Linked DNA regions of Homo sapiens: all the other regions are linked to region 3. Evidence: fine-mapped expression QTL. Tissue or cell type: whole blood. Region 3 holds a variant in brackets; each other region holds the start of a gene. Each region is shown on its reference strand, or each on the opposite one.

The links. PIP is the estimated chance that this variant, and not a neighbour inherited with it, causes the effect.
Region 1: LINC00482 starts here. The variant in region 3 is fine-mapped to the expression of LINC00482 in whole blood (TOPMed, PIP above 0.99).
Region 2: PELI3 starts here. The variant in region 3 is fine-mapped to the expression of PELI3 in whole blood (TOPMed, PIP above 0.99).

Annotation. Positions count from the first base shown.
Region 1 is chr17:81,304,281-81,312,454 of GRCh38, reverse strand. It overlaps LINC00482 (long intergenic non-protein coding RNA 482), which reads left to right and starts at 3,207. Exons shown (of 4, transcript NR_038080.1): 1 at 3,207-3,270; 2 at 4,611-4,825; 3 at 6,638-6,789; 4 at 7,093-8,174. It overlaps TMEM105 (TMEM105 long non-coding RNA), which reads left to right. Exons shown (of 3, transcript NR_165247.1): 3 at 1-1,190. RefSeq lists an enhancer at 2,784-2,843.
Region 2 is chr11:66,462,744-66,470,915 of GRCh38, reverse strand. It overlaps PELI3 (pellino E3 ubiquitin protein ligase family member 3), which reads right to left and starts at 4,011. Exons shown (of 8, transcript NM_145065.3): 1 at 3,889-4,011; 2 at 2,636-2,788; 3 at 2,012-2,083. The coding sequence starts at 2,787. RefSeq lists silencers at 3,524-3,873, 3,884-4,093 and enhancers at 5,045-5,544, 5,545-6,046.
Region 3 is chr7:149,749,161-149,757,334 of GRCh38, reverse strand. No RefSeq gene overlaps it. Among named protein-coding and RNA genes, the nearest start is that of ZNF467, 20 kb to the left of the region's middle. The variant T/C (reference allele first, on the strand shown) is at 3,761.

The DNA of each region.
Region 1 (8,174 bases), not on the chromosome of region 3:
GTTCAAGCGATTCTCCTGCCTCAGCCTCCCGAGTAGCTGGGACTACAGAAGTGCACCACCACACCCGGTTAATTTTTGTATTTTTAGTAGAGACGGGGTTTCACCATGTTGGCCAGGCTGATCTCAAACTCCTGATACACCCGCCTCGGCCTCTCAAAGCACTGGGATTACAGGTGTGAGCCACCGCGCCCGGCCCTTTTCCTGCCTCCTAAACAAGTGGCCAGGAATTCTCCTCCTGCACCGGGTCCCCAGATTGTGTGGCAAGCCCTGCAGATGGCACAGGGGACTGGTTCTTCCTCGTGGAAAGCCAGGCCCGGACACCTCTCGGGCATCGCCTGTTGGGGTGACCCTCCCACACCCAGCCTGGAACCCTAGCCAGCTCAGCCTCCGTCCGCTGAGAAATCAAGGTGACCTTGTGGCTCAGCCCTCAGGGGGCACTCACCACACAAGAGTTCCCTTTCAAGACCCCCTGTTCGGGGCTGGGGCCCCCAGGAACGGTTGGGGCACCTTCCTGGGGCCCTGTTTTTCCCCAGGAGCGGGGCCTGGGAGCTGAGGGCGTCTCATCTCCCCACAGGCATCTGCTGCTGCTCCTGGCTGCCACTCACCCCTGTGAGATGCTGAGGGCAGGATACCTGTCTGTGCGGGGCGTGGGAAAAAGGGAGAAAGCCTGGCAGAGGGTTGGGGGCTAAGAAGCAAAGGGCGTGGAAGGGCCACCGTGCACTTTTGAAGTCTCTACTTGCCAGTGGCCACCCCACCTCTCCCTGCCCTCATCCAAGGACGGACAGGCCTGGCAGGTGGACCGGAGCTGTGGGGCAGAAGCATCCCAGGCCTGGCCTCAGAGGAGGGAGGCCATGGTGAAAGTGGAGGCTGTCTGCATCCACCTCCCCAGCCTTTGTCACCGGGACCTCAGCCTGACCCCAGGCCCACCCCAGGCTGCTCACCGAGGTGGGTACCCTGCCCACCGCCAGCTCAGATGCGGTGTGTGGACTCCCTTCTCTCTGGGGGTGAGCGGGAGTTCCCTCCCCTCCACATCAGGAGCTGGGGGAGAGCTGGAGGGCCCTGGGATCCCCTTGACCCTGGTCATCAGCCCCAGCCCTGACAGGCCCTGCGTGTGCCATGTGTGGCCTGGGTTTGGAGCTCAGCACCCTGCGGGAATTCTATTAAATCTCCGATTTTATCTGAAAACTTCACCCACATGTTGCATTGCTCTGTGAGGCGTCTGTGTGTGTCCAGGCAGCAGTAACAACGCTACTAATGCTGGCGGCCATCACAGGAAGCCAGTCCGAACGTCCCCCAAGGGCCTGTTTCACCCTCATGACACCAGGCGTGGCAGAGACGAGGAGCAGAGGCCTGGACCTCTCAGGGTCTCAGCAGGGGGAGGCCGGCCTGTCACGAGTGTTTGATGACCATGGAGAGGAGGTGGTGGAGGTAAGCGTGGCTGCTTCCAGGGGAAGGGCGGGCAGTGCTGGGGGAGGGGTTCTGTATTGATTAAGCACGTACTGTGTGCTAGGTCCTCTGTGGGCTTCATTTAATTTATTGCCACAGCCACGGGAGGGAGGGGTGGTTAGCGCTATATTTCAGATGAGGAAACGAGGCTCCGGTGAAGACACTTGTCTAGTCCTCTGGCTGTGGAAGGTGGGAAAGGGATGTCAACCTGGGCTCGGGAGAGATAAGGAAGCTGAGGCCTAGAGCCTTGTCAGGCCTGGAGCTGCTGTCCTCCCGCTGGGGCAGCACCGCCTGCCTTCATTTAGAGCAGCAGATCCTACAGCACCCGGGTCCTCACCTATCAAAGGCAGACACCATTCCTGACCACGTGATGGCCTGGACGAGACCAGTGTCTGGGTGTCTGGGTGTCTGGGTGTCTGGATGGGAACTGGGAGGGCCCGGCCAGGCCCGGCACATGGTGACTCTGCCTGCCCTTTGCAGCTGAGAGCTGGCCTCTCCTAGACCTCAATGTCCACTGACACCCAGTGCCCCTGCAACCTTCTCTTCCTGCCCCACGAAGGTGGCACTCTCCTGGGGGCCGCTCCAGCCCTCTGCCTGGGGAGCAAGCGGAGGGGCCTGGGACCCCACCTGTGTTCCTGTCTCTATCCCTCCTCAGCTGTCACCAGCTTTAATTACCCCGGCTCCATCCGCCCCGGCCCCTGCGCAGCTGGAGAGCCCCTTGGGCGGGCGCAGGGCCCCTCGCCTGGGCACGCAGCATTCCTGCATTCCTCCCCGGGGCCCACCGACCTGTCCTGCCGGTTGTGGGCAGCTTCCGGGTGCGGGGAGCCCGGCGTGTGTTTGGGGGGGTGCGCAGCTGCTGGATGGGGAGCCTGGAGAGAGCCCGGCTGTGCCCCGGGACTCCCAGCTGCGTTGCCCACATCCCTCTGCCACCCCGCATCACGACCGGAGCCTGGCAAGAAGTCAGTGATTCATCACTCGGGCCCTGGGGGCTGCCTGGAGGGGCTGGGGTGCTTCTAACAGCAGGAAAGGGAAGGCAAGAGAGAACCTTCCACAGTTGGGAGCAGCAAAGCGGCCCAGGAAGCCCCCCAACAGGATGGGACCATCTAAGGTTCCAGCCACCCCAACCCCCCGGAGCAGGGCCCCCAGCCTAGTGGTATGTGGATAAGCCCTGCCTGGGGTGCACCTTCTCGGGGAGACCCTCTGCTCTTTGGGCTACTGTCCTGGGGAGCCTCCCCCTTCCTGGGGCTGGGTGGACCAGCTGCGGAATGGCAGCTCCCCCTGGAGGGGCTGGGGAAGAAGTGGGGCGTGCTGTCCACCAGCTCCTCCCTACCCCGAGGCGCCCCAGATGATCTGCCTCCAGCTCCAAACAGGAGTAGTGGCCACCTGTGAGTTTCTCTGAGGCCCAAGTGGTCACTGCCGGAGCTGCCTGTGTCCCTGTGTCCGGACAGGCTCCTCTCCACCTCTGTGTTTGGGCAGCTCTCCCCTTGTGTCTGGAATTTTTAGAAAACGGAAAAAGTGTAGACAAAAGCAGGCTTTTTATCTCGCTGAATGCTCCAACACCCTCCCTAGTTACACCACGGTAGTGGAAGATTCAGAGGAAGTTTCCTCCTGGTGGCCGTGATTACCATCTGCAGTTCTTGTTCGGGGACATTGCAAAGGTCACATTGTCCGTCCAGCCCCGCCCCGCCCTGACGTTGCTCCCGGAGTGGGGACGGGCTCTGAACCACCCCAGCTCTCAGGGGCCCCGCCCTGGGTAACACACGTCTGCGGTGTTACCCACGACTGCCTGGGACCTGGCCAAGGGCTCCACACACCAAGACCAAGGTGAGGGGAGGTGGTGGGTGGGGACCAGCCCTGCCTCTCTTGGAGACCCCGAGGGTATGGCGCCAGGCCAGCCTGGAGTCGGGTGTGGGGCGGTTAGTGTGAGCATTACGTCTTCTTTTCCCTAAAGTGGCTGAAAATGTCCCCGGGGCCAGTCCCTCAGGGCACCCTGCTGGACTCAATGCAGCAGAAAGAGTTGGGGTGTTTGGCCGGGTGCGGTGGCTCACGTCTGTCATCCCAGCACTTTGGGAGGCTGAGGCGGGCGGATCACCTGAGGTCAGGAGTTGGAGACCAGCCTGGTCAACATGGCGAAACCCCATCTCTACTAAAAATACAAACATTAGCTGGGTGTGGTGGCAGATGCCGGTAATCCCAGCTACTCCGGAGGCTGAAGCAGGAGAATCACTTGAACCCAGGTGGCGGAGGTTGCAGTGAGCTGAGATCTCACCATTGCATTCCAGCCTGGGTAACAAAGTGCGACTCCGTCTCAAAAAAAAAAAAAAAAAAGAGAAAGGGTTGGAGTGTCCCATCCTCAGGGCAGGGGTCAGAGCTGCATCCCTGGGGTGCCCTGAGCTTGGGGGTCATGATAACCTTCACCCTGCATGCAGCCCAGGCCCACACCTAGAAGTCTTGTGGCCTTGAGCACACTGCGTTGCCTCTCTGAGCCTCGGTTTCTCCATCTATAAAATGGAGAGGGTAACAGTGAGAGATTGCTATTGGCTGGCTTCGTTCATTGGGCCCTAAATCAAACAGTGGCTTAAATACCAGAGGCTTGCTCAATGGGTGGTGGGCAGGCAGCCGGGCTGGGGCGGCGCCCCCCCCATCTCCACGGTGTCCCCACCTCTACAGTGCCTCCCCCTCTCCATGGTGCCCCCCCACCACGGCCTCCATCCCTGGGGTCCAGGTTTCATTTGTTCCTCAGCAAATGCTACAGAGCTTTTGTAGGCCCACCAGCAGGAGTGGGGTTGCCAGGCAGTGAGCTAGGGGGTGCTGGGAGGGCCCGAGGGGAGGCAGGGCGCATCCTGCAGGGTGCCTGTGAGGACCTGGGCTGAGGGTGGGTTTGAGCAGAGGCTGACATGGTCTCACCCTCTGGCTGCTGGGTGGGAACAGACCATGGGGAGGCCAGGACGGAAGTGAGGAGAACATGACGATCCCGGAGAGAGATAACCCGGATCGTGGTGGAGACACAGGAAGTGGGGAGAAGTGGTCCAAGCTGTGGATATCTGAACATGGACTCAACAGAATTTCCCGATAGATTGGATGAGGGGTGTGACTGAAAGGGAGAAGTCAAGGATGGTTCCATAGCAACCGCAGGAGCTCCAGCCATTGCATCTGCATTCCAGGCAGCAGGAAGGAGAAAGGAGGGAAGGTAAAAGACTACTGAAAAGCTTTCAGCTGGGGCTGGGCATGGAGGCTCACACCTGTAATCCCAACACTTTGGGAAGCCGAGGCTGGTGGATCACTTGAGCCCAGGAGTCTGAGACCAGCCTGGCCAACATGGCAAAACCCTGTCGCTACAAAAAATACAAGAATTAGCCATGTGCACCTGTGGTCCCAGGTATGATCTCACCACTGTACCTCAGCCTGGGTGACAGAGTGAGACCCTGATTCAGAGAAGGGGGAGGGGAAGAGGAAGGGGAAGGGGAAGGGGGACGGAAGGGGGAAGGGAAGGGGAAGGAGAAAGGGAAAGTGAAGGGGGAGGGGAAGGAGAAAGGGAAGGGGAAGGGGAAGGGGGAGGGGGAGGGGAAGAGGAGTGGAAGGGGAAGGGGGAGAAGGGGAAGGGGAAGGGGGAAGAGAAAGGGAAGGAGGAGGGGGAGGGGGAGGGTCTTTTGGCAAGCCATGAAGTCGGCCCAGCCCTTCTGCTTATATTGCTCAGGTTGTAGTCACAGGACCATGCCCGGTGCTCGTGAGGATGGGGAGGTGATTGCTAGCTGGGAACTGCGCACTCAACAATGACAGGGAGATGCCTCTGGGTGGGGAAGGCAGTGCATGGACGCTGGTCAGCCGGCCACTCCAGGCAGTGGGAAGGTGCTCAGAGGCCCGAGGAGTCAACTCTGGTGGGCGCTGGCTGTGCAGCCGGTGCTGGTGGCCTGAACACGGCAGAGGGCCAGGCCGGGCCTCACTCAAAGGAAGCAGGGAGACAGGAGCGGGGCTGTGGGCTTCTCTCGAGAGCTGCCAGGCAGCCAGGCAGGCTGGGAATGACATTTGCCATGCTGTGCCCCCGGCTCTGGCACTGGGCGGCTCCTGAGGCCCAGGGAGGAGCGTGACCTGCCCACGGGTCCACCATCATCGAATGCGAGTCAGAGTCAGACCAATGCTGTGGCTCCAGGACAATGCCGTGTCCCCTCCTGGGGCTCAAAAAAGCATGACAGGGATTTGGGGGACAGGGGTGTTCACTTCTGCCCTCCAACAGGCTGAGGGGGAGGGTCTGGTTTCTCTGCTCACCTGTGCTGAGACGGTGCTGGGGAGAGGCAGGCGGGAGCCCCAGCCCCCTCCAAGTGTTTGCCAGCCCAGGCTCTGTCCTGTCCAGGCATGTCCTGTCCACCTGCCTCCCTCTAGGGACCGTGGGGGCAGGCCTGGAGCACTGAGCTCAGGGCCCCGAGCCGTCTAGAGGGACAGCTTCCTCACACCATGCACCTGGGCTGAGCTCAAGTCGCTGCAGCCCCTGACCCCCAACTCAGATATCCCTTTGCAGCCCACCTACTACCCAAGAAGCTGCTGTGTAGGGACAGAGCCCACCAGGGCACTGGGGACACGTGGCACAGGCCAGAGAGCTCCTGAGGCCTGGGAGGCTGCCATGTTGGGTCCCAGATGGACACACCCCAGTACGCCCAGTCTCAGGGCCTGAGCCACCCACTGGTTCTAGAATTCTCTCAGGAGAAGAGAGCCCCTCACGGCCCCCTTCATCACAGGCTGCGCGGCCTCAGCCTGGCCAGCCCCGAGACCCTTCTAGCTTGCGGATCCCCCTCCTGCTCCCCCGACCCTGACTCTCCCAGAGTGGACTGGCCAGGTCTGGGTCTGGTCTGCGGGCAGGAGCCCTGCCCAGGCGGCCCCCAGGGCCGGCCCTCCTCTCCCCGACTCCATGCACGTCTATAAACGCCCTGCACAACCCAGGGCCTTTGCCCGTGCATCCTCTGCCCGGGCGCCCTCTACACCATCTGCTGAACCCGGGTGTGCTCTCTGGGCCCCTCTGCAGGTGCCTCCTCTGCTCCTTTGGGAAAGCCCCACCTGTCTTGAGGTCCCCCACACCTGTGCTTCCCAGCACCTCGGAGACCCCAGAACCACTGAACAAAGAACACTGGGGTCCTGGGCTGCCACATGGAGGACCCCAGGGTGGCAGGCTCACAACAGCACAGGTGTCCTCCTACAGCTCCCAGGGCCGGGAGCCTGAAACCAAGGTGTCCACAGGGCCCTGCTGCCCCCAGAGGCTCTGGGCAGAGCCCTTCCGCCTTTCCAGCTCCCCCTGGTTCCCGTGCTCCTCGGCCTGTGGCCCCATCACTCTGGCCTCTGCCTTCATCTCATGTGAGTTTCTCCTCCTCTTCCATCCCTTATAAGGATGAGGGTCGTTGGGCTTAGGGCCCCCTGGGATGATCCGGGATGACCTCATCTCCAGATAACCTCTCCATGACAGCTGCAAAGACCCTTGCTCCAATTCTGAGATTCTGAGATTCTGGTTGGACATCACATATTGGAGGCCACCATTCCACCCACTACACAAAGAAACCCTCCCCTCCAGAACCCCTTTCCCTGTCCGACCAGCCCTTTGCAGCTTTCACACCCCCTGACAAATTTGGTTCTGTTCCCTTATTCTACCCCCTGCCCTAGGCCGAGATCCCTGAAGCGGGCCCAGCTCCGTTCACTGCTCCCCCGGCCTCCTGCTGTTTCCCACACGCAGCCATGGTACAGGGCAGCTCATCCCACCACCTCCCCAACCGCAGCCTCCAGGGATGTACACCCTGCCTCAGGGGCTGTGCCTGGGCCCTGGCTGGTGGAGGGCACAGCCGTCAGGGAAGGCCCTCAGCTGCAGGATGCCGTGCCTCAGAGACCAACCAGGCCCTCGAAGGCACTGTGGCCGGCCCAGATGTCAGCAGCTCCAGCAATTAGGCTGGGACAGATGGTGCCTGGTGACACAAGGGGACTGTGGGGGCCACAGGGGACCCTGCTCACCTGGACCTACCGTGGAGGCCAGGGAGGGAGATGGACTCGAAGGGCGGAAGGGCCCAGAGAAGGCACATTTGCAGAGCAGCGGCCGCATTTCCAGAGCTCGGGAGCCCAACAGGAATCCCGTCTGGCCATGGGACCACCGCCCTTGGGGCTGGGGGATGCCGCAGGGGACGGCAGAGGGCAGACAGGCCAGGAAAAGGGGAGGGCAGAGGGCAGACAGGCCAGGAAGAGCGCCTGCAAGTGCCCAAGGAAGGGACCAAACCCAGGCCCCTGGACCAGAGCGGCCGCCTGGTGGGGCAGGCTGGAAGGGGCCAAGGCCAGCGCCAAGGGGGAGCAGGTGAGGGACCCTGGTGGGCATCTGTGGGAACAAGGCCACGTTTCTCCCTGCGCACGCTTTAATCAAGGACATTCCTGTGGTTCTCCAAAAGTGTCGCACACTACATGGGTGTCGTGAGCTGGGCTCCGTGAGAGTGTGCGGGTGGCTGGGGGCAGCAAGGGAGCAGCAAGGCCTCAAACCCGGGCGGCGGCCTGGCCTGCGCGCCAGGATGTGCGGTGTGAGTTTCCCGAGCTGCAGGAACAAGGTCCACAGACTGGGGAGCTTCACACAACAGAAACTGCCTCGCAGTTCCCGAGGCCAGAGCCCATCGGGGTGGCTCCCTGAGGCCGTGAGCCCGGACTGTCCTGGGCCGCCCCCTCTTCCACAGGCTGAGATCATCCTTGGCGTCTGTTGGCCTGCGGCCGCC
Region 2 (8,172 bases), not on the chromosome of region 3:
GGAGGGGTTCCTCAGCTTCTCCAGGAACCTAGGTGCCACCTGCCACACCCAGGCACAAGCCAAGGATGCCATAAGCCTAGAGGAAGAAAAGGGAATTCTCGCCCTAGGATCAGGTTTCTGGGAGAGGGAACACCTCTACTGGGTTTTGAAGAACTAGAAAGGGTTCACCTGTAGTAAGCTGTCACTTATCACACCACTACTCAAAACCAAAATGGAAGGAAAAAATGACACACAATGCCAGTACCTCCATATGTCCATACATGTCAAATTTCCACCTGCCTTTCCAGCTCTTGTCTGGAGGGCATGGCTGTGAGAGGCACAGAGGAGGTGAGGCATAGCTCTCATCGCTGCCATGGGCTGCTGCCTCTGTGTTCCTGGCCTTCATGTTATCAATCACCTAATGGAATCTGTGCAGTGGCCTGCCAGGCAAGTGGCTTTCTGCCCATCTTACAAATGAGAGAAATCAAGGCTCAGGGAGGTAATGTGACTTGCCTCTGGCTAGTAGGTGAAAATGTCCAGATTTGAGCCCAGTCTCTCTGACTCCAGAAGCCCCTCTAGATGGAGGCTCACCCTAAGCAAAGGGCCCAAGGCTGGCAGGGTCTGATGAGATCAGGGAATGGTGGCTTTGGTGGTGAAGTATGTGGGGGAGATGACACTGGTGGGAGGGCTCTGAACTCCAGGCTGAGGACATTATTCAACAACCAGTGGGGTGCCAGGAAGGTCTGGGAACAGGAAGTGACAGGACAAAGAGCTGCCAAATACAGACAAGGCCACTTGAATCAGAATCTTCTAGTGAGTTTGTTAAAATCCAGATGAGGCCGGGCGCAGTGGCTCACACCTGTAATCCCAGCACTTTGGGAGACCGAGGCAGGCAGATCACTTGAGGTCAGGAGTTCAAGACCAGCCTGGCCAACATAATAAAACCCTGTCTCTACTGAAAATACAAAAACTAGCCAGGCATGCTGGTGGGTGCCTGTAATCCCAGCTACTCAGGAGGCTGAGGCAGGAAAATCACTTGAACCCAGGAGGTGGAGGTTGCAGTGAACTGATATCGTGCCACTGTACTCCAGCCTGGGTGACAGAGCAAGACTCTGTCTCAAAAAAAAAAAAACAAAAAAAAAAAACAGATTCCCTGGTCCCACCCACTGCGACTGTGATTCTGTAGGCTTGGAGAGGGCCTGTCAATGTGTATTTTCAGTGCCCTCCAGCCAGCTCTGATATGCAGCCAGTGTGGACTCTGCTCCCCAAGGGGGCTGACAGGAGGGTCCATACCCATGGGTCTGCAGCCTCCCACATTAGTGGCCTTGCCTTGGGCTGGAAAGCCAGTCCTGCCTTTGGGATATGAAGCAGCTGCTTTTCCAAGGCAGCTTCTCCCAAGGGAGACATCACTTTTGCCCTTGTGAGCTCTTCTCACACATGGGGGGCAGGTCTTGAGGTGGGACAGTTCAGGACACAGGCTTGGGACACAGATGGGCCTGGCTTAAATCTGGCTCTTCCACTTATCACATGACCTCTGTAAAATGGAGCTAATTTTTTAGGACCTACCTCGCAGGTTCATTTTGAGAACTAAATGAGACAAAGCATTTAAAAGCGCTTGGCACAGAGTTTGGCATATTTATAGGAAGCCCTTGATAAGTGTTCACTATTACTGCTTTTTTTTTTTTTAAAGCATGTGTCAACAAACAGCCATTAAAAAAAAATCTTAATGATAATATAGCTTATCAAATAGTTTCTTTAGGACTGATGGCAAAGAGAGGCCAAAAGGAGATCCAGATGGGGGAGGAGGAAGAGGGTCTGTCCCTGGGGAAAGATCTGAGTGGATGGTGCAGGGATCCTGGTCAGGCAAAGACCAGGAAGGGATGAGGTTGGCCAGGCCGCCAGATCACGTTGCTTCCTCTCTCCTGGCCTTGGCTTTCTCATCTGTAGTGTGAGGGTCAGCTGTGGCTTAGTGAAAGCGCACTAGACCTAGAGTAAGAAAGACCTGGGTCCAAATCCCAGCCCTGCCACTTACCAGCTGTGTGCCCTTGGGCCAGTCACTTCCCCTCTCTGAGCCTCGGTTTCCTCACCTCCTTCCTCACAGCATCTTTGTGAAGATTGAAATGAAATAATGTCCATGAAAGGGCTTGGCACAGGCCTGCCTCCCAGAACACTCGATATGTGCTAGGCGCTGTTCTATGTACTTTACAGAAATCACCTCATTCATTTCTTCCAACAACCCTCTGAGGAAGGGATTATTATCATCCCCATTTGCAAAACAGGGGAAACAGAGGCACAGGGAAGTTCAGCAACTTGCAGAGGCAGGATTTGAACCAAGCAGTTTTGCTGGAGAACCAGAGTTCTTCACCCCACACCACACACACTAGGTGCTTTAGGAAAGGCAGCTGGTGTTAACATTTTTCTCATCTGATCAGGAAGTTGGGTGGTTAGAGTTGTCACAGTACTTTGTGAAAAATGGGAAGATAAAATAATAATTATGAATTGAGGTGGGTTTGGTCAATTTTGTCTTTCAGCTAGGAAGGTGAGGAGGGACAAACAGCTGAAGGCCCTATGTGGGGGGAGGAGGGGTCGGGCCCTTGTTCTGGCTGCGTTGGGTGGGTGTCTGGTGCTTCACCCCTTCTAGGCCAGGGATGCTCACCCCAGGACGATGAGTTCACCATACTTGATGGGCTCCTCGCCTGGCTGCGCATCTTCACCGGGAGAGGAGAGAACGCAAGAGCCCTTGTTCCCCCGGTGCTGGAGGTCTGAGGTTCGGGGGGACCCCACTTCAGGGTTTCCTTCCAGCACCATTCTGGGCAGAGTGGGAGAGAAAAGAGCTTTGTAGGTTCCCACCCCAGCCCGGCTCAATTCCAGCTGCAGCCTGCTGCAGGGCCGCCTAGGCTAAGGCAAGGGTGACCTTTCACCGCCTCTACTGCTATGGCAACCACTTCCCCTCTGCCTCCTCTAAACTGCCCGAGGTTGCTGGGATACCAGGGAGGGGTGGCACAGTGAAGAGAGTCAGGATATTCAGTGGTGCCAAAGAGATGGACCAACTTGGGGTGGCCAGAGGCTGCTTTTTGGCCAAGATCCCAGTCTGGGATGTGCTTCAAAGCGGGGCACCCAATGAGTTGGGGGCCGTTACCCCTCATCTCAGACTCAGTTCCTGCTTATAGCTCTTAGCCTCTGGACCTCTGATTTAGCCTCTCTGACAGGTTCTTTGAATCTACCTGTCCATCTGAATCTTTCTTGCCCCTTTGAGGTCTAGGCCTCTGTCTGTCCATCTGCTTTCTCAATGACTCTCTGTCCTCCCAGCCGCTGTCCTTTTTGCCGTCTCTCTCCCCCCATTCCCCATCTCTGCCTGTCTGCCCGCCTCCGCCTCACCATCTGCCTCAGTCTCCCCATCTCGGCCTCCCCCTGCGGGTAGGCCAATAGACTCCTCCTGGGTGCGCGCTCTTCCCTCCCTCAGGTGTCTGTCTGCGTCCCCAGCCGCCCGGGTCTCAGGAGGCCTGCGGAGGCGGCGCTCCCCCCTCGAGCTCGGGCTGCAGCACAGCCGTCTCCCGCAGGCAGCCCGTTTGGAAAACATCCCCGCGCCAGAGGGACCGCGCCGGGGCAGGCCCGCGCCCTGCGCCCCGGGCGGGCAGAACGGGAACCGCGGCCCAGCACCTACGCAGGTCCACACCCGGCGGCCCCTCCGCACAACACGCGCGCGTGCACGGCCCCGCACGCCCCGGGCCCGGACGGCGCAGAGACCACCCGCACCCGCGACCGCAGGGACGCGCGGGCGCGCAGCAGCCACCGGCGCCCGCCCTCGGACCCACTCCCTCCACCACCCCCAGACACGCAAACACGCCCCCCGCGCCCGCCGGGGCCCGCCTGGCGCAGCCCCCGCCCCCTCCGCCCCGGCGGCCTCACCTGGCCACGCTCCGGGCCCCGCTGGGCGCCGCTCCCTCCCCGCCTAGCCCCTGCTCGGCCCCGGGCCGCTGCGGCGGGATGGGCCCGGCCCGCGGCGGCTCCGCGCTGCCTCGTCACGGGGACACCCAGGGCCGGGGGAGGGGGATGAGCGCGAACAGCCACGCTCCGCCCCCTGTCCGGAGGCCCCGCCCCATTTTCCCCGCCCCTAGGAGAGCTCCGCCTCGCTCCAGACTCCGCCTCTTGCGGCGATGCTCAGCCTTCGTAGGCGGAGCTCCGCCCCTTCGCAGGAGACCACGCCCTTCCCCTGGTACCGCCCTCTGACCAGGGAAGCCCCGCTCTCCACTCCGTCTGAGGGACTCCCTTGCCCCTCCTAGCCGGCTCAGGACTCCCCCGTAGTCTACACGACCCCTCCCCCATTTCAGACTCCCCAAACTCCGCCTCCATTTCCGGGGACTCCGGGGTTCTCCCAGAGACATGGGCGCCCCTCCCCACTGTCGGTCAGGGCCCTCACACGGCGCTGGAGGCCCCTTCCCTAGCCTTAGGCCCGGGACTACGCACCCCCAGCTCCGACACCCCGCCTACCATCTGGGGACGCCACGCAATTAGAGGAGAGGAGGAAAATGCTAAAGGCAAAGGGGGTGTGCGGCAGCGGTGGAGGCCGGGGAAAGCAGCTGCAGTTGACCAGAGTCGCAGACCTGTCTTCCAGCCCAGCTCGGGCACCCCCCATTCCCCTCCCCTCAGTCCCCTCCCCTCCGCCAGGATGCACACACCCCCCGCTGTGCTGCAAAGGAAAGAGAGTTTTGGGGGAGCACCGCCCCTTCTGGGCCTGGGGCTTGCGAGAGATCTATCAGTCTACGTTAGGCGCTGTGCGCTGTGCTTTGAGCAAATTAAACCCTTTACTTTAATCCTGGGAGGCAGGCACGATAGTTGCCCATTTTACAGATGAGGAAATAGATTTACAAAAGTGACTTGCTTGTTGTAGTTTGCTAGAAACGGGCCAAGAGAGAATCTCAGCTGTATGAGTGGCTTCAGTCTCAACTCCTAACTTCGTACCTTGTCGTTCTGACTAGGGATGGAGCCTCAGAGGTGCAGAAGAGAAACCTTGTCTGCATCAGGTAAGGTCCCTATTGCTCAGTACTCTTGGTCTGGAACTATAAAGGCTGGATTATAGTTCCAGATCAAGTCTTTGGTCTTGTGGGGGGCGGTGGGGGTGTTTAATGAGAAAATCAAGGAAGACTGCACAGAGGAGGTGGCTTTTGACTTCCATTATGAAGGATGCATGTTTAGTTTGCCTAAACATTCCTGAGAGGGAGCCGCTGCCACTCCCACCCCCACAAACTTGTTGCACCTGAAGTTCCCCATCTACCAGACTCCCCTGGGGCCCTACTATATCCACCCCGCTAACTCCTCCACCTAAAAATAGCCAAAGATACCAACTGCTTTGCCAACTGTTCTGGGGCCCAGCGGCTAGATGAAACAAGAAAGCAGCCGACGGCACATCCTTTAGGGGAAAAGACACTCGTTAGTCACAGAGAATCTCCCTGCGAGACTTCCACCAAGCAGGACACCACCAGACCGCTGGGCTGCTGGCTGCAGGTCACACAAACCCTGTGACACAGGATAGCTGCCCTCACTGATGCCACCAGAGGCGTCCATTGTGCTGGGTGTGCACGGGGACCCTGGGACAGCCTCACTCCCTTGTGTACCCCCAGCTTTTAATGCATTGCCTGCCAGAGCAGGTCCTCAGTGAATATATACTGAATCCCTGTTATAATCCCCAATTTACACACCAGGAAGCTGAGGCTCAGGCAGAAGAAGAAACTTGCCCCAGGTCACAAGCCAGGCAGATGTGGAGCTGATGCTTCACAGGAGCCCCAGTGCTTCCACCTGACACTGGACTGCATGGAGGAAGGTCTGAGAGGGATCACCAAGACTCACTGGAGGAGGAGGCAGGGATTTCTCCTGGGGCAGTACTGGGATTGGAGCTGCATGGTGGCACAGCCAGACCATCAGGCCTCAGGGAGGCTGAGGTGGGCCCGACACCAGGATTGCCCAAGTAAGGGAGAGGAAGGGAGAGTTAGGACACCAGTAGCAGATGCCTAAGTTCCAACCTTGGCTTCTGGCTCTAAATCCAGCGCTCTGCTCCAAGAACTCCAGCTTCTTAATCTCACTAAGCTTCAGTTTCCTTATGTGTAAAATGGGAATAATAATGATACTTGTGGTGAATAGGATTTTGCAGTATTGCTTTGAAATTCCTTTGTCAACCCTCCCTTTTCTCTCTTCAATCTAGATCTTGTCCCTGTTGGTTCAAAGAAAGGAATAAAATAGAAACTTTATTTCTTTCTTAAAAAATTTTATTATTATTATACTTTAAGTTTTAGGGTACATGTGCACAACGTGCAGGTTTGTTACATATGTATACATGTGCCATGTTGGTGTGCTGCACCCATTAACTCATCATTTAGCATTAGGTATATCTCCTAATGCTATCCCTCCCCCCTCCTCCCACCCTACAACGGTTCCCGGTGTGTGATGTTCCCCTTCCTGTGTCCATGTGTTCTCATTGTTCAATTCCCATCTATGAGTGAGAAAATGTGGTGTTTGGTTTTTTGTCCTTGCGATAGTTTGCTGAGAATGATGGTTTCCAGCTTCATCCATGTCCCCTACAAAGGACATGAACTCATCATTTTTTATGGCTGCATAGTATTCCATGGTGTATATGTGCCACATTTTCTTAACCCAGTCTATCATTGTTGGACATTTGGATTAGTTCCAAGTCTTTGCTATTGTGAATATTGCCGTAATAAACATACGTGTGCCTGTGTCTTTATAGCAGCATGATTTATAATCCTTTGGGTATATACCCAGTAAAGGGATGGCTGGGCCAAATGGTATTTCTAGTTCTAGATACCCCTTTTTTTTTTTTTTTTTTTGAGACGGAGTCTCGCTCTGTCGCCCAGGCTGGAGTACAATGGCACAATCTCGGCTCACTGCAAGCTCCACCTCCCAGGTTCACGCCACTCTTCTGCCTCAGCCTCCCGAGTAGCTGGGACTACAGGCACCCGCCACCACGCCTGGCTAATTTTTGTAGTTTTAGTAGAAACGGGGTTTCACTGTGTTAGCCAGGATGGTCTCGATCTCCTGACCTTGTGATCCGCCTGCCTCTGCCTCCCAAAGTGCTGGGATTACAGGTGTGAGCCACCACGCCCGGCCGAAACTTTATTTCTTTAATTCTTGGGTTCTAATGCCTGAAGGGGAGAGGCTTGGAATAGTTTGGAAAAGTAGTTGTATATCTAGTTGAGAAAACATGTGGAAAAAACAAAACAGGGCTGGGCGCAGTGGCTCACCCCAATGCTTTGGGAGGCCAAGGCAGGAGGATCGCTTGAGGCTAGGAGTTTGAGACGAGCCTGGGCAACATAGTAAGACCCTGTCTCTACAAAATTAAAAAAATTAGCTGGGCATGGTGGTGCCTGCCTGTAGTCCCAGCTACGCAAGAGGTTGGGTCAGGAGAATCATTTGAGCCCAGGAGATCGAGACTGCAGTGAGCTATGATCACATCACTACACTCCAGCCTGGGCAACAGAGTAAAATCCTGTCTCTAAAAAAAATTAAGAAGAGAAAAAAACAACAGCAGCACATTCTTTCTGGGCTGGGAGATTTGGAGAGGAGAAGGAAGAGCTAAGATGCTAGGTTCTGCCCTTGAGGCCATGCCAGACGGGGAGGGTGGGGTTGGGAAAAGACAGATCCCTCACATGGATTTGGGGATCCAGAGCAGAGGCGACCTGGGCTTCAGTTCTCGGTCTCTAGCTTTAGAGGAAAGCCCTTGAAGCAAGGCCTGAGAATAATAATCCATGGCTCTTGGTCTCTTAGTTCTACTTCCTGAGTCATCTTTCATTTTCCATAAAAGGTAGTCTGTGTTTGCAGCTGAGTAATTTTCTTGGCCTGCATCCTGTCTATAGAAGTTTGAGGGTTCGAATGCCTCTTTTCCATTTCTGTTGTCTCTGTCCTTTACAGTCCAAGTTGTCAGTGTTTCTGCCAATACAATTCTCTTAAAAACTTTGTAGATTTCTATGGACCTTATTCACTTCATTAGACTATGCCCACAAATCTCTTTGAGATAAGCCCCCCTACCTTGGGCTCATGCTGATAGACAAATCCTTTAACGTTTCTAGAAGCCCTTATTGTTTGAATGGTTCTATTGCCTTAGACCTGAAGTCTTAGGGAATTTACAGGCATACTGTTGGCCTCTTGGCTTCAACTTTATACCATGTTTTTCTGATGTGA
Region 3 (8,174 bases):
CTCTTTTCAACTTGTGTCATGGTTAATTTTCTGTGTCAACTTGGCTAGACCATGGTGCCCAGATATGTGACCAAACATTATCTTTATATGTTTATATGAGGGTTTATGGATGATATTAACATTTAAATTGGTGGACTTGGAGTAAACAGATTATCCTCCATAATGTGGGTAGGCCTTACCCAATCAGTTGAACAGAACAGAAGACTGACCTCCCCCAAGGAAGAGGGAATTCAGCCAGCAGAAGCATCGGCTCTTCCCTAGGTCTCCAGCCAGCCAAAGCCACCCTATAGATTTTGGACTTGCCAGCCCCTGTAATCACATGAGCCCATTCCTTAAAACAAATCTCTTTCTACATGTATATACACACACCCCAAGGTTGTCTTTCTCTAGAGAATCCTGACTAATACACCTTGCAAAGCTGAAACTCTGTGCCTATTAAACCCTATTCTCCCCTCTCCAAATCCCTGGCAACCATCATTCTACTTTCTATCTCTATGAATCTGACTACTCTAGGGACCTCCTATAAGTGGAATAACATAGTGTTTGTCTTTTGTGACTGGCTTATTTCACTTAGCATGATGTTCTCAAGGTTCATCCATGCTGTAGCAGGTCTTAGAATTTCCTTCCTTCTTAAGGCTGAATATTCCATTGCATGTCTACACTACATTGTTTATCCAATCATCCACCAATGAACACTTGGTTGCCTCCACCTTATGGTATTGTGAATCATGCTGCTGTGAACAGGAGTGTACATATGTCTGTTTGAGTGCCTGTTTTCAGCTCTTTTGGGTATATACCCAGATATGGAATTGCTGGATCATATGGTCATTCTATTTTTAATTTCTTGAGGAGCTGACATACTGTCTTCCACAGCATCTGCACCATTTCACATTCTCACCAGCCATGCATGAGGCTTCCAATGACGCCACATCCTTGCCAACAATTGTTATTTTCTGGTTTTTGATACTGGCCATCCTCATGGCTTTGAGGCGACATCTCAGAGTGATTTTGGTTTGCATTTTCCTAGGACCTGTACTTTTAAACACCAAGCTCCACTGTCCCCTTGCAGAGAGGGGTCTTCAGGACACACATTCAAGGTCTTCAGGGCACTCACAGACTCGCGGTTGGACCTAGTGGGTTGGTAAGAGAAGTATGTGCAAAGGATCATGGAACAAGGAGCAAGGAGCAGGGACTCACACCTGGAGATCAGGAGGGCATCTCTGAGGAGGTGAATTAACTTGCCAAGACTGTAAGCAACTGGGGACCAGGCTTCCAGCCAGCCGGGAAACCTGTTACACACACACGTGGCATTAGCATGCATCTGTCTCCTGGGAGAGGACAGTGCTGGGTGGCAGAGACCTGGGAAGAAGCATGAAGCCATGGAAGTTGGGCCTGGCTATCTGTTGCAAAATGTTCCCTTTCTAGACGCGATCATGAATCATGGAGCTACAGCTATGGGAATCTTTGTTGAGGCGTGGATGTCAGCTGTGATTTAAAATAGGTAGGAATCGGCAGGCAGAATGAAGCTTCATTTTCATAGAAAACATATATTATGGCATCCTGAATCGAGGCACTGAGAAAGGGTGGCTGATGTCCAAGCAGGTGATGTACCAAGGAGACCAGGCAGTGCAGACAGGTACAGCTCTGAGAGAACACCAGGAAGGAAGGGGGAAAGGAAGGTAGCAAAGTCTCAGGATGTGTTTATGGGGCAGGCAGATAGCAACCTGGGAAGAGGGTCGAGGCCTCACAGACTCCCAAGACACTGGCCAGCCTGGGCCCAACTCCAAGCCACAGTCTCTGTGAATTGCCTGAAAATTGTCCTGCTGACATTGCTGCCCCCTGCACACAGGCAAGGGGGGAGCTGTGCCATGTGGCACTGCGTTCACCGAAGCTGCTGTGTTCGCTTCCTGAGGCCTCCTTTACAAAGTGCTACACACTGCATAGCTTCAAAACAGCAGAAATCTATTCCTTCACGGTCTGGAGGCTATGAGTGTGAAATCAGGTGTTACACTCCCTCTGAAGGCTCAAGGGAAGACTCTGTTCCAGGCCTTTCTCCTGGCCATTTCTTGACTTATAGACACAGCACTTCAATCTCTACCTCCATCCTCCCATCACCTTCTTCCTGGGTCTCCTCCACTCTGGGCATGTCTGTGTCCCTCCTCTTCCTATAAGGACAACAGTCATATTGGAGAACGGCCCACCCTAATGACCTCATCCTGATTTTATCCGCAAAGATCCTATTTTCAAGAGGCTATATTCATAGGTTGGGGCCAGGGCTAGGACTTCAACACAACTTTTTGGACTTCTTGGGGGGCGCAATTCAATTCATAACAGAGACCTTGAGTAAAATACTGTGTCAAAGTTGGGGGAGCTGAGGCTGAAATGAGGGCTCCTGGTATTGGGAGGGAATGGGGCAGTGCAGCTCTAATCAGAGCCCATGAGAGTGGACCTGTGGGTCCAGGCAGCTCTTACCCCAGGAGCTCTTGGATCCACCCTGTGCTATGTTTTGGAGATGTGTCATATCATTCAAAAAAGCCAAAAGAGGCTGGGCACTGTGGCTGACACCTGTAATCCCAGCACTTTGGGAGGCCGAGGTGGGAGAATCACTTGAGGCCAAGAGTTCAAGACCAGCCTGGGCAACATAGGGAGACTCCATTTCTAAAAAAAAAAAAAAATTTAATTACCCAGGCATGGTAGCAGGCCTGTAGTCCTAGTGACTCAAGAGGCTGAGGTAGGAGGATGCCTTGAGCCCAGGAGTTTGAGGTTACAGTAAACCAAGATTGTATCACTGCACTCCAGCCCGGGTGACAGAGCAAGAACTTGTCTGAAAAAAAAAAAAAAAAAGATAAAACATAAACAGTTTTGCTTTGTGTTACTTTATTCTTCGTGTGATTTTTAAATTTAAATTTTTCCTAGTCCTATAACAGTAAAATAGCTTTGATAGGACAGTAAACAGTTGACTTTTAGGAGACACTAAGAGCAACTGGGAACTCAGCCTTTTTCCATCAAACATGACTGTTTTGTTTGGTGTTTCTGTAAACTGTGTTTATGTGTCGGGGGTGGTGGTGTGCACACCAGGATTTACTTGTAGAGAGACATAGATGAAGGAAGGAGACAGCCTCCCGAGGAAGATGTTGCCTATGCTGGGGAGAGGGCTTGAAGGGGAGCCGGGGTGGGGGTTGGCGAGGTGGGTTGAGGGTGGGAGGGCTTCTGCTAGTATGTTCAGGGAGACAGATGGGCCGACTGAAGGCAGACAGGTTGGTGAGTGCGTTCACGGGACATGCTGGTTTCCAGTAGTGAAAGATTCTTTCTGCTCCTGGGACTCAAGAACCTGCTCGTAGTTGTTAACTCCAGGGTCCTGGGGAGGCCACCCATGCCCCACAGGGAAGAAAACTTCTTCACTCACTTACTGATCCTTGAAATGTCTTTTAACCAGAGACAAGTCTTGTATTTCACAGTCAGAGGGAGTATGCAAGACCCCCAGAAGAGGGCGCACGGCCACAATTCCACGCTGGTGGAAGGACTGGAATCCTGTCCTTCCCTGGGAACCCTCACCTGGGGAAGGATGAGTGAGTGTCACACTGAGGCCTCCCACAGTGGAGAAGCAGCAACGGAGAAGGAGGCCCCAGGAACCCTAAAGACAGAGACTTTAAGGTCGGGAGGGTTTCACAGAGGCTTTAGGAAACAGATTTATCCAACTGCCACAAAGGACTGAGCCTTCAGGCGTGGGATTAGGTCAGCCTTGGGGCAGGGGACATTC[T/C]TGGTCAATAGCAGGACTTTGATTTACGTAACGGGCTTATGCAATGTCATTACATAACATCATTAGGGGCATCGCAAATCGGATTCTATTTCAGGCTCTACAGGAGCCAGACCCAGGGCTCCCCTCCGGCCCAGCAAGACAGGATTCCCGTGGGCCCAGTGTCCCTGTCCTCGCTGGGATTTTCTCTCTTGAGATTTCACTGTGGGGCTTCCAGGAGAACTCCTAAGGCCTCAGGATCCTCTTTCTCCAGAATGATGGAGCTCGCGTCATAGCACGCTCATCCTTTGCAGATGCCTGCCCTGCTGCCCCTGCTGCCCCTGACCCTCCCAGTACTGTCCCCCCAAGCCCAGGCCAGTGGGCAACCTTCTCCTATCAGGTCCCCCTCTGACTTCTCCCCAACTCCTGCTTCCCCATCTATCCTCCAACTGTCAGGCTGATCTTCCTTATAACTTATTACGCCCCAGCTTAGAAACTTCTGCTCATCTGAATATCCAGAGGCCTTAGCGGTTGACACATTGTGCCACATTATTCTGTGTGTCCCTCTGGGGGTGGCAAGCTTCCCTGGCACAGAGCAGAGTGCCCACCTAGCCAGTGTGCAATACATGTCTGTTCTAACTCAAGGCTCTCTACAGTTGGCCCCAACAAACTTTTGAAACTTATTTTCCAAACCTCCTGGGTACACACCCTCCCTTACACCAAGCGGTCTTGTTCCTGTCTCCGGGCCGTGTGGTCCTTCCTGCCTCCTGCCCCGGCCTCCCTGGGCTTCCCCATCACAAAGTGCCTACTGCCCTGACTTCCCTTTTAAATCCTACCTATTTTTCGAGCACAGATGGGGGCCACCTCCTGGGGGTGTCCTTCCCCAATGATCCCAGCACACAACAATCTCCTCCTTTAAGCTGTCATGGTTCCTCTGCTTCCCACCTTACCAGATGTCGCCTGCAGTTGTTGGGTGTGTCCGCGTGTGCCTAAAATGTGTGAGTGCCTCCTGTGACTGAGGCTCCTACTTAATTCCCCTAAGCCCCCTTTGGTACGGGGTTGCTGTCCTCACTTCTCAGGTAAGGAAACCGGGGTTTAGAAAGGTTACACCCTTGTAGGAGCCTCATCTCTCCAGGCCCACTGGGAACATCTCGAGGGCGGAAGTCGTGTTTTTTTGTCTTGGTATTTCCAGGACCTGGCACATTTGAACACTCACAACACGTATGTTGAATTGTACAGGTGGAAGAGGAGCCTTTACAAGGCCTACCCATCTCAAAATCCCTCCCCTACCGGATAATCTGAGTGCCTAAAATCCACCCCTGCAGAGTTATAGCTGTGAACTAAGACAGGGTGACAGCAAACACAAATCCCAAAGTTAATAAATTCAGCGATCTATTTTTTCATGTGGCTGCTGAGATGGTTAAAGCTAAACTTACTGCTCAAATGCAATTATGTGAGTTAGATATCTGGTATGTTTCACATACTCTGCATGTCCCATTTAAAGCCTCACTGTAATATACCACCTTCGTTGGCCGTTACTGCAAAGTATATGTATTAGATGAGAAGAGAGCTACCTGAACTAAGAAGAGAGCTGAGAACCACACTCAGGAAAGCAGACAGAAAGGGGAAAGCAGGAATGTCAGTGTTGGAGAGGCCTGAGAATTTTCTAGGCTGTCGGTTCCTAACCTTTAGCAAACCACCAAGCATTTAGTTGTTTAAAGCTCCCTTCAGAGTAATGTGCATAGAAACAATGATTTGCACGTAATTTTAGAGGGTATGTGGACACCCTCTTTAAGCCCCTCTGTGGGCCCACATGGTCCGCAGAGCTGGTTTAAGAACCTCTGCTCTCATCCTGCATGACAGAACGGAGGCCTGGAGGAGAGAGGTTCTGCTGGGGCCTGAAGGGTGGGAGGGAGGGAAAGAGGAAATCCATGATTTTGCAGGGCAGGCCCTGCTGGCTAGTTTCCGGTTCTCCTTGTCATCTTGTGCCTGGGCTGCCCCTGGCACAGGAAGAGCCTGTGTGGCCAGAGGAACCTGCTTCCCCTCCACCCAGCTCTGCATGCCCCTCCCTGCTCAGCGGGCTGGGGAGGGTGGAGGTCCCAGGGTCCCACAACTAAGGTGGGCTCACATTCTGGGACCAGATCAGGACTCACAATTACCCCACAGGAGACTTCCACCCATCCCTCTCCCCAACCCAGATGGAAGCACACTTGCCTAGCTGGGCTGGAGGCAGATGACACACCTAGGGGGCCTGCCGGGGGCCTGGGTTGGGAACAGAAGCCCCAGCTCTGCACTCTGAGAGCTGTCCCTGAGTTATCCCCCACCCCTACCCCTGTGCAAAGGATGCTAATGAGAAGCTTTTCATTTCGCAGCTGCAGCAGCACAGCGTGCACACACTTGTCTCATTTTGCTGTTTCAGGAAAGAAAGCAGAGCTTGCTCACCCCTCGCCCCCACTTCTATTCCCAGTGAAGGTCACGGCTTCTCCTCAGCCCTGATTGGCAGCAGCCTTCTGAGGGCCAATGCTGGTGACCAGCAGTCAGGCTTCAGAGAGGGGCCTTCTGAGCTTTCCACAGCTCTGTGAGGAGATGTCCGAAGGGAAACATTGCAGAGTGGGACAAGGGGAGAGTCCAGAGATAAGAATTATCTATGTTGTTTTGTTTTTTTTTTTTTTGAGACAGAGTCTCACTCTGTCGCCCAAGCTGGAGCACAGTGGCACGATCTTGGCTCACTGCAGCCTCTGCCTCTTGGATTCAAGTGATTCTCCTGCCTCAGCCTCCTGGGTAGCTGGGATTACAGGCACCTGCCACCACGCTTGGCTAATTTTTTTTTTCTGTATTTTTAGTAGAGACAGGATTTTACCATGTTGGTCAGGCTGGTCTCAACCTCTTGACCTCAAGTGATCTGTCTGCCTTGGCCTCCCAAAGTGCTCAGATTACAGGCCTGAGCCACTGTGCCCAGCTGAGAATTATCTATTTTAAACCAAGTAGGTATTTAGGCACTTGAGAATACCCAGGGGAAAAATCTCACATCGCTGCCCGGATCTGCCTTTTGCAAATATTGCTTGTAAATTAAATGAGCTGGACTTGGGAAGTGGCAAGAAACAACTTTATTTTCTTCTTTCATCGTCGCATTCAAACCCATTCTGTTGTATCTGCCTTCTTCGCTATATCACTTTTTTATTGTGTGTAACAAATCACTCCGAAATTGAGCCACTTAAAACAACCTTTTATTTGCTTACAGTTCTGTGGGTTAGCAGTTTGGACTGGGTTCAGCAGAGTGGTTTTTGGCTGGTCTCACCTGGGTTCCTCCTTGCAGGTACAGTTACCTTGTGGCTCTTGTGGCCCAACTGGATCTGGGTGGTCCAAAATGGTCCTATTCTCATATCCAGTGGTTGGTGCTAGCTATTGGCTAGGCCTCTCTCTCCTCCTCCAGGAGGCTGACCCGGGCCTCCGACATGCCAGCTCTGTATTCCAAGGGGGCTGGTGCAGAATCTGTAAGGGCTTCCTGAAGCCATGGCTGCAGCACTCACACAGTGTCACTTCAGCCATATTCTCTTGATCAAATCAAGTTACAAAGCCCCCCAAGGTTTAAGAGGTGGGAAAACCGTCTTTGGTGGGAACAGCAGCCAAGACCCATGGCACGGTAGTGAGTGTACAGGGGCAGGAGAAGTTCTGGTCACACCCACTCCTGGACCATATGTTTGGTGGATCCTAATATATCTTGGAAGTTAGAATAGTCTCATTTTCAGTTACTAAAAAGTCTAGCACCATCTAACCCACAACTTCTATATCTCATCCACTCTGAAGCATCTCTCCAATCTCACTGGGGACTGCTGTGATGGGAAAAGGGGCCCAGGTCTCAGTGATCTCCATCTTGTTCTTTCACTGCTCTTCCTCACACCCTGGGCCCCAGTTGGCTCCCCCAGGGGGATGACAGGAAGGAGGGGAAGGAGAATGCCTCCCATCTGACCAGTGTTGTTGTCACCCAACCCAGGTGTCCTCTGTGTGGCAGGATGCTGCTGGAATAGTGACTTTGTCTCTCATGAGGTCCTTTGCTGAGTTCTTCTAGGTCACTTGCTCCCTGTATGGGGCTCCTCATTAGGGACTCCCTAATGAGGGCAATGCACCCTCTAAATGACCACGCTTCAGCTTCTGCTCTGCTGTGTACCCCACACAACTGCTTTCTTCCAGGGTTACTCACCAGATGCGCTATTTTCTCCCCTGCTTCTCTGTGCATTCCTTCCTTCCTTCTCTGTGGACCAGCTTTCCTGCTTCTTCACTCATAGAGCACAGCAAAGGTGGCCTCTCCATAGCTTCCACATTGACCAGTTACTGGTGTAGTCATTCAAACAATTGACTAACTTTCTCAATTCCAGACTCCTGGAAGAAAGAATCTAGCTAAGCTAAGGTCAAGTTGATCCCAGGGTTGTTCAGCTAT